Homo sapiens: one gene and its partner. The protein of the gene in region 2 interacts with the protein of the main gene of each other region in a pairwise test. Each region holds a gene or a part of one and is shown on either strand. Other genes may lie near its edges. The genes, in order: RTN1 and CMAS.

What was found.
Region 1: the proteins of CMAS (region 2) and RTN1 interact in a two-hybrid assay, tested with the Homo sapiens proteins (one study listed by IntAct).

What each region holds. Positions count from the first base shown.
Region 1 is NC_000014.9:59,867,470-59,874,995, reverse strand, and holds the start of RTN1 (reticulon-1), read left to right. Parts: upstream 1-4,219; 5' UTR 4,220-4,365; coding exon 4,366-4,606; intron 4,607-7,526. UniProt on the Homo sapiens protein: Inhibits amyloid precursor protein processing, probably by blocking BACE1 activity.
Region 2 is NC_000012.12:22,063,191-22,066,449, reverse strand, and holds the end of CMAS (N-acylneuraminate cytidylyltransferase), read right to left. Parts: intron 2,678-3,259; exon of another isoform or gene 2,523-2,677; intron 1,330-2,522; coding exon 1,139-1,329; 3' UTR 782-1,138; downstream 1-781. UniProt on the Homo sapiens protein: Catalyzes the activation of N-acetylneuraminic acid (NeuNAc) to cytidine 5'-monophosphate N-acetylneuraminic acid (CMP-NeuNAc), a substrate required for the addition of sialic acid.

The DNA of each region.
Region 1 (7,526 bases), on a different chromosome or scaffold from region 2:
AGTGAGCCAAGATCACGCCACTGCACTCCACCCTGGGTGACAGACCAAGACTCAGTCTCAAACAAACAAACAAACAAAAACAAGAAAACATTGAAACATTGGGGAAAGTCTCAAGGATATTGGTCTGGGCAAAGATTTCTAGAGTAATACCCCATAAGCACAGGCAACCAAAGCAAAAATGGACAAATGGGATCACATCAAGTTAAAAATCTTCTGCACAGCAAAAGAAACAACTAAGTGAAGAGACAACCCACAGAATAAGAGAAAAAAATTGCAAATTATCCATCTGACAAGGGATTAATAACCATAATATATAACGAGCTCAAATAGCTCTATTAAGAAAAAATATAATGATCCAATTAAAAATGGGCAAAATATCTAAATAGACATTACTCAAAAGAAGACATACAAATAAATAGCAAACAGACATATGAAAAGGTGCTCAATATCATTGATCATTAGAGAAATGCAAATCAGAACTACAATGAGATGTCATCTGACTCCAATTAAAAAAACTAGAGCTACCATATGATCCAGCAATCCCAGTTTTTTATATATTATGGTTATTAATCCCTTGTCAGATGGATAATTTGCAATTTTATTCTCTTATTCTGTGGGTTGTCTCTTCACTTAGTTGTTTCTTTTGCTGTGCAGAAGATTTTTAACTTGATGTGATCCCATTTGTCCATTTTTGCTTTGGTTGCCTGTGCTTATGGGGCATTACTCTAGAAATGCTTGCCCAAACCAATATCCTGGAGAGTTTCCCCAGTGTTTCAATGTTTTCTTGTTTTTGTTTGTTTGTTGGGTATATACCCAAAAGAAAGCAAAAGTATATTGAAGAGATATCTGCACTCCAACGTTTATCACAGCACTATATTATTCACACTAGCCAAAATTTGGAAGCAACCCATGTGTTCATCAAGAGACAAATGGATAAAGAAAATGTGGTACATATACACAATGGACTATTATTCAGTCATAAAAAAGAATGAGATCCTGTCATTTGCACAACATGGATGGAACTGGAGGACATCTGTTAAGTGATATAAGCCAAGCACAGAAAGACAAACTTCTTATGTTCTCACTTATGTGTGGTAAATTAAAATTAAAACAGTTGAATTCATGGAGATAGAGAGTAGAACGGTTTCCCAGAGGCCAAGAAGTGTAGTGCTGGGAGGCTGGCAGGGGCCTGAGGGGCATGGAGGTGGGACAGTTAATGGTAGATATAAAAATATAGTTAGATACGAGTGAATAAGATCTAGTATTCACTGGCACAATGGGGCACCTACAGTCAACAATAATTTATTTTATATTTCAAAACAACAAAAAGATTATAATCGGATTGTTTGTAACACAAAGAAAGGATAAAAGCTTGAGGTGATGGATACCTTATTTACCATGATATGATTATTATTCATTGTATGCCTGTATTAAAATATCTCATATACCCCATAAATATATACACCTACTATGTACCCACCCACAAAAATTTTAAAAAAAATCTCCAGGTTACAGTTGAGGAACCTGGGTTGTAGAGATGTTAGGTAACTTTAATATTGAGGCTGGAAAGAATTTCATCTTGGTTAAAGCTTGTTACTTGTGGCGCTCTTCCTGCATGTCCCCACACCGTGTTTCCCCATGATATATGGTTTGGACTAAGTTAAGAAGCTAGTGCTAAATAAATGCTCCTCATTTCTTCTTTTCAAATGATGAACAAAACTTCTTTTCCAAAAAACAAAAGCTGAAAACAAAACGTGACAGTTCTTTTGTCTCAACTCTTCTTGCTAAGAACCTTTTAAAAGTGACAATCCTATTTTCTCTGTGTCTGAAAAGCATTTTAGAGTAATTCGTAACTTAGAGCAACTATGTAAGCCCCAGAATCCCATTGCCGACTGTGTGTTTTGCCCATAAATCTTCAAATTAGTCAAGCTTTGTCAGTTCAGAGCGGTGCAAAATAAATAATATTAATAAACATGAATCATTTCAAGTCATAGCATAAACCTGAAAATTTCTTCCCCCAAATAGATAATTTTTATACATCCAAAGGTGGAGTCTAATAAGGAAAGTTAGTAATGAAAATTGCTAACACTGAAATCTTGTGCTCATCTCTTTTCAGCAGTGTAAAATAGAATACTTTATCAAAATGGAACTGTCAATAATGTTCAATTTCCTTTAACAACTACACTCTAAATAGATTTAACTGGCTATTTCCTTCACACATTCTCAATGAGAGTATTGATTAGTATGAAAGAAATTGACAAATAATTAGAATCATATCCCCAAACTTCCTATCTATTAATCATAAGGAAACACAGAGGCTTGCTTAGGTCTCCCAGTTTTTTAATGATGACTTTCATTCATGTTTCTCAGAGAAACAAAAGAATATACTTCATATTATTTTGTATGTAACTCCTTTGCATAGCAATTCTCAAATATTAGTATTCATCAATAACCACTTTAAGGTTATATCATTAGAATTGTCTATGTTCTTGTCTTGTTATCAGTAATAAAACCATGAGAAATTCCCATCTAGTATTTCTGATGCTTTAGGGAATACTAAGTAATAGATTTGAAAAAACTTACAAGTGCCCTCTAATTACAAGACAGGATTAAGCTCCATGGAAATACAGCAGTGGAATAAGCTTTTCAACTTAACGGTTTTTTAAATACACTCTTGTTTTCCCATGGAAAGATGTTTAAAAATCATTATGATTCATGATAACCAATTATTTTGTTGTTTTTGGATGAGATTATTTTTATAGATTTATTGAGTTATAACTGACAACACATTAAATTGTTCATATTTACAGTAAACAATAAGTTTTGACATATGTTTGCACCTGTGAAGCTATAACCACAATCTAGATAGTGAATATTTCCATCATGAGACATAATTTTGAGTATGTCAAAAATGTAAAATTTTGGTGACCATCAGATTTCCAGGGATATCTGGCTTCAGGAGGCCATATTTATTGTTTAGTGAATGATTTTTCTCTAATTTATTGTCATCTTTTGAACATTAGTGCACTAGCAGAACAAAAGATTAGGCAGACTCTGGGCTTTTTCATTTTAGCATTATTGAGGAGCACCTGAATGGTCCTGAAGTTGGCCTTTGAATATACCAATGGACAGGTATGAAATCCTCAAGATGCGCATGGTGGCCAAGAGTCCCACAGTCTCACAGTGTGTGCGGTACCGTCTGCGCCCACCTTTCCTAGAGAAGAAACAGCAGAAAAACCTATTCCTTCACCCTGTGTGTTGTGGTGAATCTTAGTTTTTAAAGGCACATTATTTTATTATATAAACAACTTGGGAACCAATAAAACACAAGACATTTGAAAAGATGGGTCTTCGTATGGGCACAACATATGATAAGGCAAGTCACTTTCCTCCTCTGAGTTTGGGTTTATTTGCTGACTATCTTCCATTTTATCACAGTGAACTGTAAAGAAAAAGATGCAAGCTTCATGGAATGTCCAAATTCTGAAATACAACGGACTGCACAGACAGCTTATGATTAGGATGGCCTTGGCTCAGTGTTTCTGAAAGCAAATGTACAGCTTTTGTCCTTGCCTATTGACACCCTGTTTGCCCTCAGGGCTGGTCAGGGTGAGATCTGTTAAGCTTTTTTTGGAGGCTGTCCTGATAACTCATTTCTTTACTCCACTATTTTCAGGCCCATTCTGGAAACGCAGGATTTAACCGCGGGGTTGCAGCTTCCCTGGTCTCCATCTGCCATCAGAACCCATCTCCACCCCTTCCCCGTTCAGACCTGTGTCCCCTCCACAACTCATACTGGTCACTCTCAGAACTGTGGCCCTGAGTTCTCTAGCTTTCCCTCTTTGCCTCGGGACCCAGGACACCAGTCGGGGCTTAACTTTCTCAGTTGGGAAGGCGACGCTGCTGGTGGCTGCTGCTACTTGCTGGTTCTTCCTTTTTTTTCCTCCCCAAACGAGAGGAAGATTCGAGTGGATTTGGCACATCCCCTAACCGGGGCCTGCCATTTGCAGGTTGGGGGCTGACGTGCCCAGGAGGACCCGGACCAAGCAGGCCATTTTCACCTGCGTAATAACAGGATTGGGAATAGCGAAGCAGCGGCGGCAGCAGCGAGTGGAGTAGGAGGAGGAGCGCAGGCAGCGGCCGCGGCGGGGCCGGAGGAAGAGGAGGGGGGAGAAGGAGGAGCTGAAGCGGGAAGAGCGGCAGGCAGCGGCTCGGCGGAGTTGCAGCAGAGGCGGCGGCGACGCTGAGACACCGCAGCTTCCCTGAGCGCCGAGTCCCTCCGGGGACAGCAGCAGGGAGCGCCCGCGCAGCCACCGAGCCTCTGCCCAGCCAAGCCGCCGTCGCCGCGCCGGGGGACCGCCAGCCATGGCCGCGCCGGGGGATCCGCAGGACGAGCTGCTGCCGCTGGCCGGCCCCGGGTCCCAGTGGCTCAGGCACCGGGGGGAGGGGGAGAACGAAGCGGTGACGCCGAAAGGGGCCACGCCGGCGCCGCAGGCTGGGGAGCCCAGCCCGGGGTTGGGCGCCAGGGCCCGGGAAGCGGCGTCGCGGGAAGCCGGCTCGGGCCCCGCCCGGCAGTCGCCCGTTGCCATGGAAACTGCATCCACAGGTAAGGCGGGCGCCGCTGCCCCTCAAATGGCGTCGGGGACCAGGGCCCCCCAGTCAGTCCCCTTCTGCGCGGCTCTCCTGGGCACCTGCCTCGCGCTTTCTGCCTTGAGCGCCGACCCCACCCCCGCGTCGCCACGGGCGACTGGGAATATTCGCGGGCTGGTAGAAAACAACAATTTTATTTTTCCCAAAGGCTCAGAAAAAGTCAAGATGCTTTTGATCCTTTTATTTCATTATCATGATTATTTCCGCTTTAAAAATTGTTCTCATAGGCAAACAGCAGCATTCTGGCTGCTGGCGAGTCTGGGTACAAGTTTCTCCCTCCTGCCAGGAGGCTCCGAGCTGTAGGGCCCGTTTGACAGGTTGTGGGGATTTTGGGGGGCGTGTTTGCGCGCAGTGTGCGCGCCGGCTACAGGAGATGCTGACAACCGAGCGGCGGGCAGGCCCGCGGCCCCTGGACCCGGCTCTGTCCAGGGCAGAGATGTGGCTGTAACTGCCCCTTACCCTTGCCCTCCACGAATCGCCACCACACCTTACTCCCCCCACATCCCTCCGCCTTTTCTCCCGCAGAAAACAAATCCCAGGGAGTTTGTCCCTAATTCGGGAGGCACAGCTTTGCAAGAGGGTTGGGTGCTGTGGCTGCCCCCGCCCAAAACCTGTATTTCGCCGCTGCCCGGATGGCCCCACCTTGCAGGGAGCATTGAAACTTCAAGTCCTAAGTGCGGCGGGCCTGGCTGTGGGTTGGAGGGCTTGGGTGGTGGTGAGTGGACGTGGTACAGTTTACCAGCAGTCTAAGCGCCCCCCCCCCCCCACCCCGGAAATTGCCCTGGGTTTGGCCATTCTTCGCCTGACGCCCTATTCAAAGTCTGAGCGCGCCAGTGTCCAGCGGGAGCCCAGGCCCCTGGCGCATCCTGGTCAAAGGATCCAGGAAGCGCGCTTTGAGGCTGCCGGCCTGGTTAACGCTGTTTCCAGGGAGAGGAAAGGGGATGCTGTGTGGTGCTCTTTCCTGAGAAAGCTTTGCTATGGTGGAGTGGGAGTTGTGTAGTTTTGGCAATGTAGAGCTAGAAGGCCTGGGGTGGGGGGTGCTCCCAGAGGAGGGGAAGGGGAGTGGGACTGGTGTGTGTGCTCTTGGTGGTTGATTTAAAGAAACCCCTTTTCGTAAGCTTCTCTTAAGGGTTATGTGGAATGTCTAAGGTAATCGTAATTAACTGCCCTGGTACAGAAGATCTGAGCTGGGGAAAAGAGGTTTGGAGAATGCGTTGAATAAAAATTGTCAATATCCTGAAAGGAAGAGAAAAAGTGGAGACCCTATATAAGAAAAAAGAAAAAGAAAGAAAGAAAAGTACTCAAAAGCCCCAACGCCAAACGCCAAAGGTTATATATTAATTATTATATCCCTAGGAGTGGGGGAGGATTTAAATCTAAGAATGGCTGCTCAGTCTCTCTTTCAACTTCTGCATCCAAGTGAAAACAAAACTCTTTATAATTGCAAAAGAAGATGGCAAATGATAATAGACAAAGGAAGGTAGTTTTTGTCTTTACCATTCTTTGTTGAGGATAGACTGCTCATAGTTCAGAATCTTTATCCACTGTAATCAAAGTAAATTGTTTCTTTATGAAACATTACCCACCTCCTATTAGTGCCACTAAGATTATGTGAACTAGAAAAAGGAAGCTAAGTGCCCCATGCTCAGTAACATATCCACAAAAGTTATTATATAGGAAATGCTTAGAATATATATTTGTGGGGTACAGTGTGATGTTTTGACATATGTCTGCATTGTCAAATGATTAGCTAACAAATCCATCATCTCATGTACTTTTTTTTTGTGGTAAAAGCGTTTAAAATTTACTCTTTTAGCAATTTCAAAATGTACAGTGCATTGTTACAGAAAGGTGGCTGTAGTAAATAACAATGCATTTTGCATTTTTAGTATTATTATTATAGAAATACCTTGCTTTATTGAATGTGTTTGGGGTTTTCTATCCTAGGCAACAAATATAGTAATAAAATCAAACATGATACTACGTTTGGATGGGAGAAGAATGAAGAAAGATGGAAGGAGCACATATTTTGCATATTTATATAGAAATTTTTTAGTTTATGATTGTGGCTAGAAGGAATTTCTGATATAGTTGTTGATTGGTTAATGTCTTAAATCTCTGTGTTTCTTATTAAGTAGACCGGATGTGCTGCTATAAGAGACTCAAACGCCAGAAATGCTGTATAAATAAATAACTAGATCTTAAAATTCCAAACAAATCTTGTCCAGCTTCCTGGTCTGTTATTTTGGCAGTTCTATTGCTATAAGCAAAGTTAGCAGGTGAGCCCTCAATTGTATCAGAGATGCCTATTAAGCACACTACTTTACACTGTATTTCTTAATTTACTTTTTTTTGGCTTATAAACAGAAATTTATTTTCTCACAGTGCTAGAAGCTGAGAAATCTAAGATCAAGGTAGATTTGGTGTCTGGTCAGGGTCTGCTTCCTGGTCCACACACAGCTGTCTTTTCACTGTGTCCCCACATGGCAGAAGAGTGCTTTATTTTTTTAAAAGAGTGGTGCTTTTTTGGGACTCAACTCAAACTAAGAAGTAACTTAGACTTTGAGTGTGATGCACTGTAAACAGATTTTGTTTCTTTTTTAGATGGAAATATAAGACAGATATTGATGTTTTAATAACTGTTTTTCTGAAAAACATCACCAATCATGCCATCTGGACAGATATTCTGTTATTTATTTTTATACATTGATGGTAATTAAAATTATCCCAGGAACATTTCCAAAAATATGTCTCAGCAGTGTCCTGGAATGAATATAAGTTTAAACATTATTAAAACTGCACCATAAAACTCCATCAATCCTCTATTTTCAGGTGTTCTCATTGCTTCTGTCCCTTTTGTGGCGTGGAAATAGTCT
Region 2 (3,259 bases):
TGTCTTATTTTAAGGAACTGTCACAGCCACCTCAACCTTCAGCAACCACCACTGTTCAAGGCAACATCCTTCAGCAGCAGAAAGATTGACTCGCTGTAGGCTCAGGTAATTGTTAGCATTTTTAAGCAATATTTTAAAATTAAGGTATATACACTGTTTATCTGGGCATAATGCTACTGCACACTTAATAGACTACAGTTTACTTTAAACATAACATTTTATGTACCTGGCATCCAAAAAATTCCTATGACTCGCTTTATTGCAACGGTCTGGAACCAAACCCGTAATATCTCTAAGATATTCCTGTATGCAAAATTACCATTATCTCTCAGGGGTAACTGCAAATAATTTGCTTCCTCCAAATAAATACATAATCTTCATAATATATAAATTTATTTGGATATTTGTATTTGTGTATACTGCTGATCCTTGAACAACATGGGTTTGAATTGTGTGGTCCACTTTTATGTGAATTTTTTTAACCATGTGCAGATCAAAAATACATGTGAATCATGCAGTATATGGAGGGCCCACTTTTTGTATATGTGGGTTCAACAGTGTTGACTGTGGTACTTGAGTATGCACAGATTTTGGTATATGTGGGTGGTCCTGGAACCAACCCCCACATAGACCATATGCTGTTACGTATACATATGTGAAGTACAATCAGATGCTCTACCCCGGCATCGAGTGGCTTGTTTCTCACTAAGATTGGTTAATGTTTAAAGGAAAGAAAGAAAATGCATGGTAAATTTCTTCTAGAGCAACAAGGCAGTTTTCATCAAGTTTGAGAAATGTAGTTTTATTAATAGAAGGGCATGTCTTACCATACACACTGTCCCCAGATAAATAAAATCCCAACATCTTTGAAAGCACACAAACACACAGTTTTACAGGGTACAATACAAAGTGAACTTTGATGATGTTCTTACTTGCATTTACTAAAAATCTGAGAAAGACTGTAATCAGTCTCTAAATAATTATCTTGCGTAAAGAGAAAAGTAGAGCACAATATATATATATCACAAACCAAATCACACTCTCTGTAACATTACAACATGGAATTTACTTAATCAAAAATAAAAGCAAACTGGCTGAAGAAGGCTGTATCATTTTTTTCTCAATATTACGCTAATTTCTATTTTTGGCATGAATTATTAACCTTTTCCATTAGTAGGCAAATGTGCTCTGCAAATTCTCGGATGGCACCACGGCCACCATTACATTTGCAAATGTATCCAACAGCCTTCTGGGCAGTAGAACAGGCATCAGCAGGAGCGCCACTTAGGCCCACTCTCTTCAAGCACTCTTCATCAGACACTTCATTTCCTATCAAGTAAAATAAATACTGAGCAAACATTTAAAGAGACAAAGAATATTCTAGCTAAATAATGCAGACAGCAACCAACAGGTAACTCTGGCAACTTCAGTAAGACCTAGGGGCACTGCATATAAGAATACTAAAGATTAGATGGAACAAAAATATTTTACAGTATAATTGAGGTCCAGGGTTTTCCCTAAGCAATCAAAAATAAACTCTTATGAGCTAGAGAAGAAGAATGGAGCATAATTGCTACCTGCCATGCATATTACAAATGTTAGAAATTTTATATATGAATTCTAAGTAAGTTATTTAAATTTTTCATTAAGCAAAATTTCAAACATATGCGAGAACCCCAATTTTATATTGAAAAATTATCAGAATTTAAAATCACTTAGTAATATTGTTTTCTATGCACTGCCCCCTAGTTTATTTGGGGAAAGGGAGAAGAAGGAATTCCCAGACATAATATTTTATCCAAAAACTCTTCAATATTTATCTCTGATAAATATAATTTTTTATCTGACAGAATATCATTAAACCCACAAAATCAGTAATAGTTCCTTAATATCCTCTAATAACCTAGTATATGTTGAGATACCCCCAGCTGTCTCAAAATTGTCCTTTTATAGCTGACTTATTTGAATCAGGAATGAAATAAGGTTAACATATGGTCTTTTGTTTATATATATATAATCTCTTAAATCTCTTTTAATCTGTAATGGTTCTGATTGGTATGCCATTTATTAATAGTTGCTGAAAAATTACCATTTTTAAAGAATAAAAATAGATACTAAATCATACTGACATAACGATATCCTTTTCCTCCCTCTCTGTTAACCCCTTTTTTGGAATAGGATGCATTTCAGAAGCTCCCAGTATCTTTAATTCACCATTCTGAGTAAAACTATTACTATACTTTAGACCACATACAATAGTACAATCTTGGTTGAAGAGAGTTTCTTTTACATTTGTTCTATGCTTATCTACTGAAATTTTCTCATTTATTATTAAATGTGTTGAAATTTGAATCGTTTTCACTAAAATAAAAAAAGTTAGTATTTGCATAATCCAGCCTTTAAGCTCTATTTACTAAATTTTACTTATAAAAGTATTGATTTTTTTAAGAAATATATTTTTATACACTTATGTCACCCATATAAAACATTGGTGAGTGAGTTATTATTTTTTTTTTTTGTAGACATGGGGCCTCACTATGTTTCACAGGCTGGTCTAAAACTCCTGAGCTCCAGGGATCTGCCTGCCTCCGCTTCCCAAAGTGGTGGGATTGTAGGCATGAGCCATCATGCCTGGCCTGCTGTGAGTTTTAAATAAAAATGTAAATGCTCTTCTCCATTTTCTTACCTCTCCTTTTAAAGTGTGTGTGTGTGTGTTTTTTTTTTAATGTCATATAAGTAATACGTATTCGTGGTAGAAATATTTTTTTAAAAAATAGAAGCAAAAAAGTCACAATCATCCTAATTATCACTATTTGTAGATAATCACTACATTTTGACACATATAATTCTAGAGTTTTACCTATATAAATGATACACTTATTACTATCTGTAGGCACTATGTTAAGCATTTTATATTATCTTTGTTTTTCTTTCTAATGGCTTTATAAAATTTGGTTTGTGTTTATATTCTAAGTAGAAAACTAAGGTATACAGAAGCTTGCTTAACATCCCAAAGAAAGATAATAAGTATAGTTGGAATTTGTTATACATTCCACTAAAATTTTCTTCTAATAAAAATTGGATCTGTCTTTAACAAACATTCTGCAGCATTTATGTCCATTAAATCTTCATGTGTGGTTTAAGGGTTATTCCTGAAGTCTCTAGATCACATGCTCCCAAAGTTTTTCCTGTGCTTCTTATTTTGAGGCTCATATTACCCTTGTAAATACTGCTTTCATACATGATTTATAGTTATTAT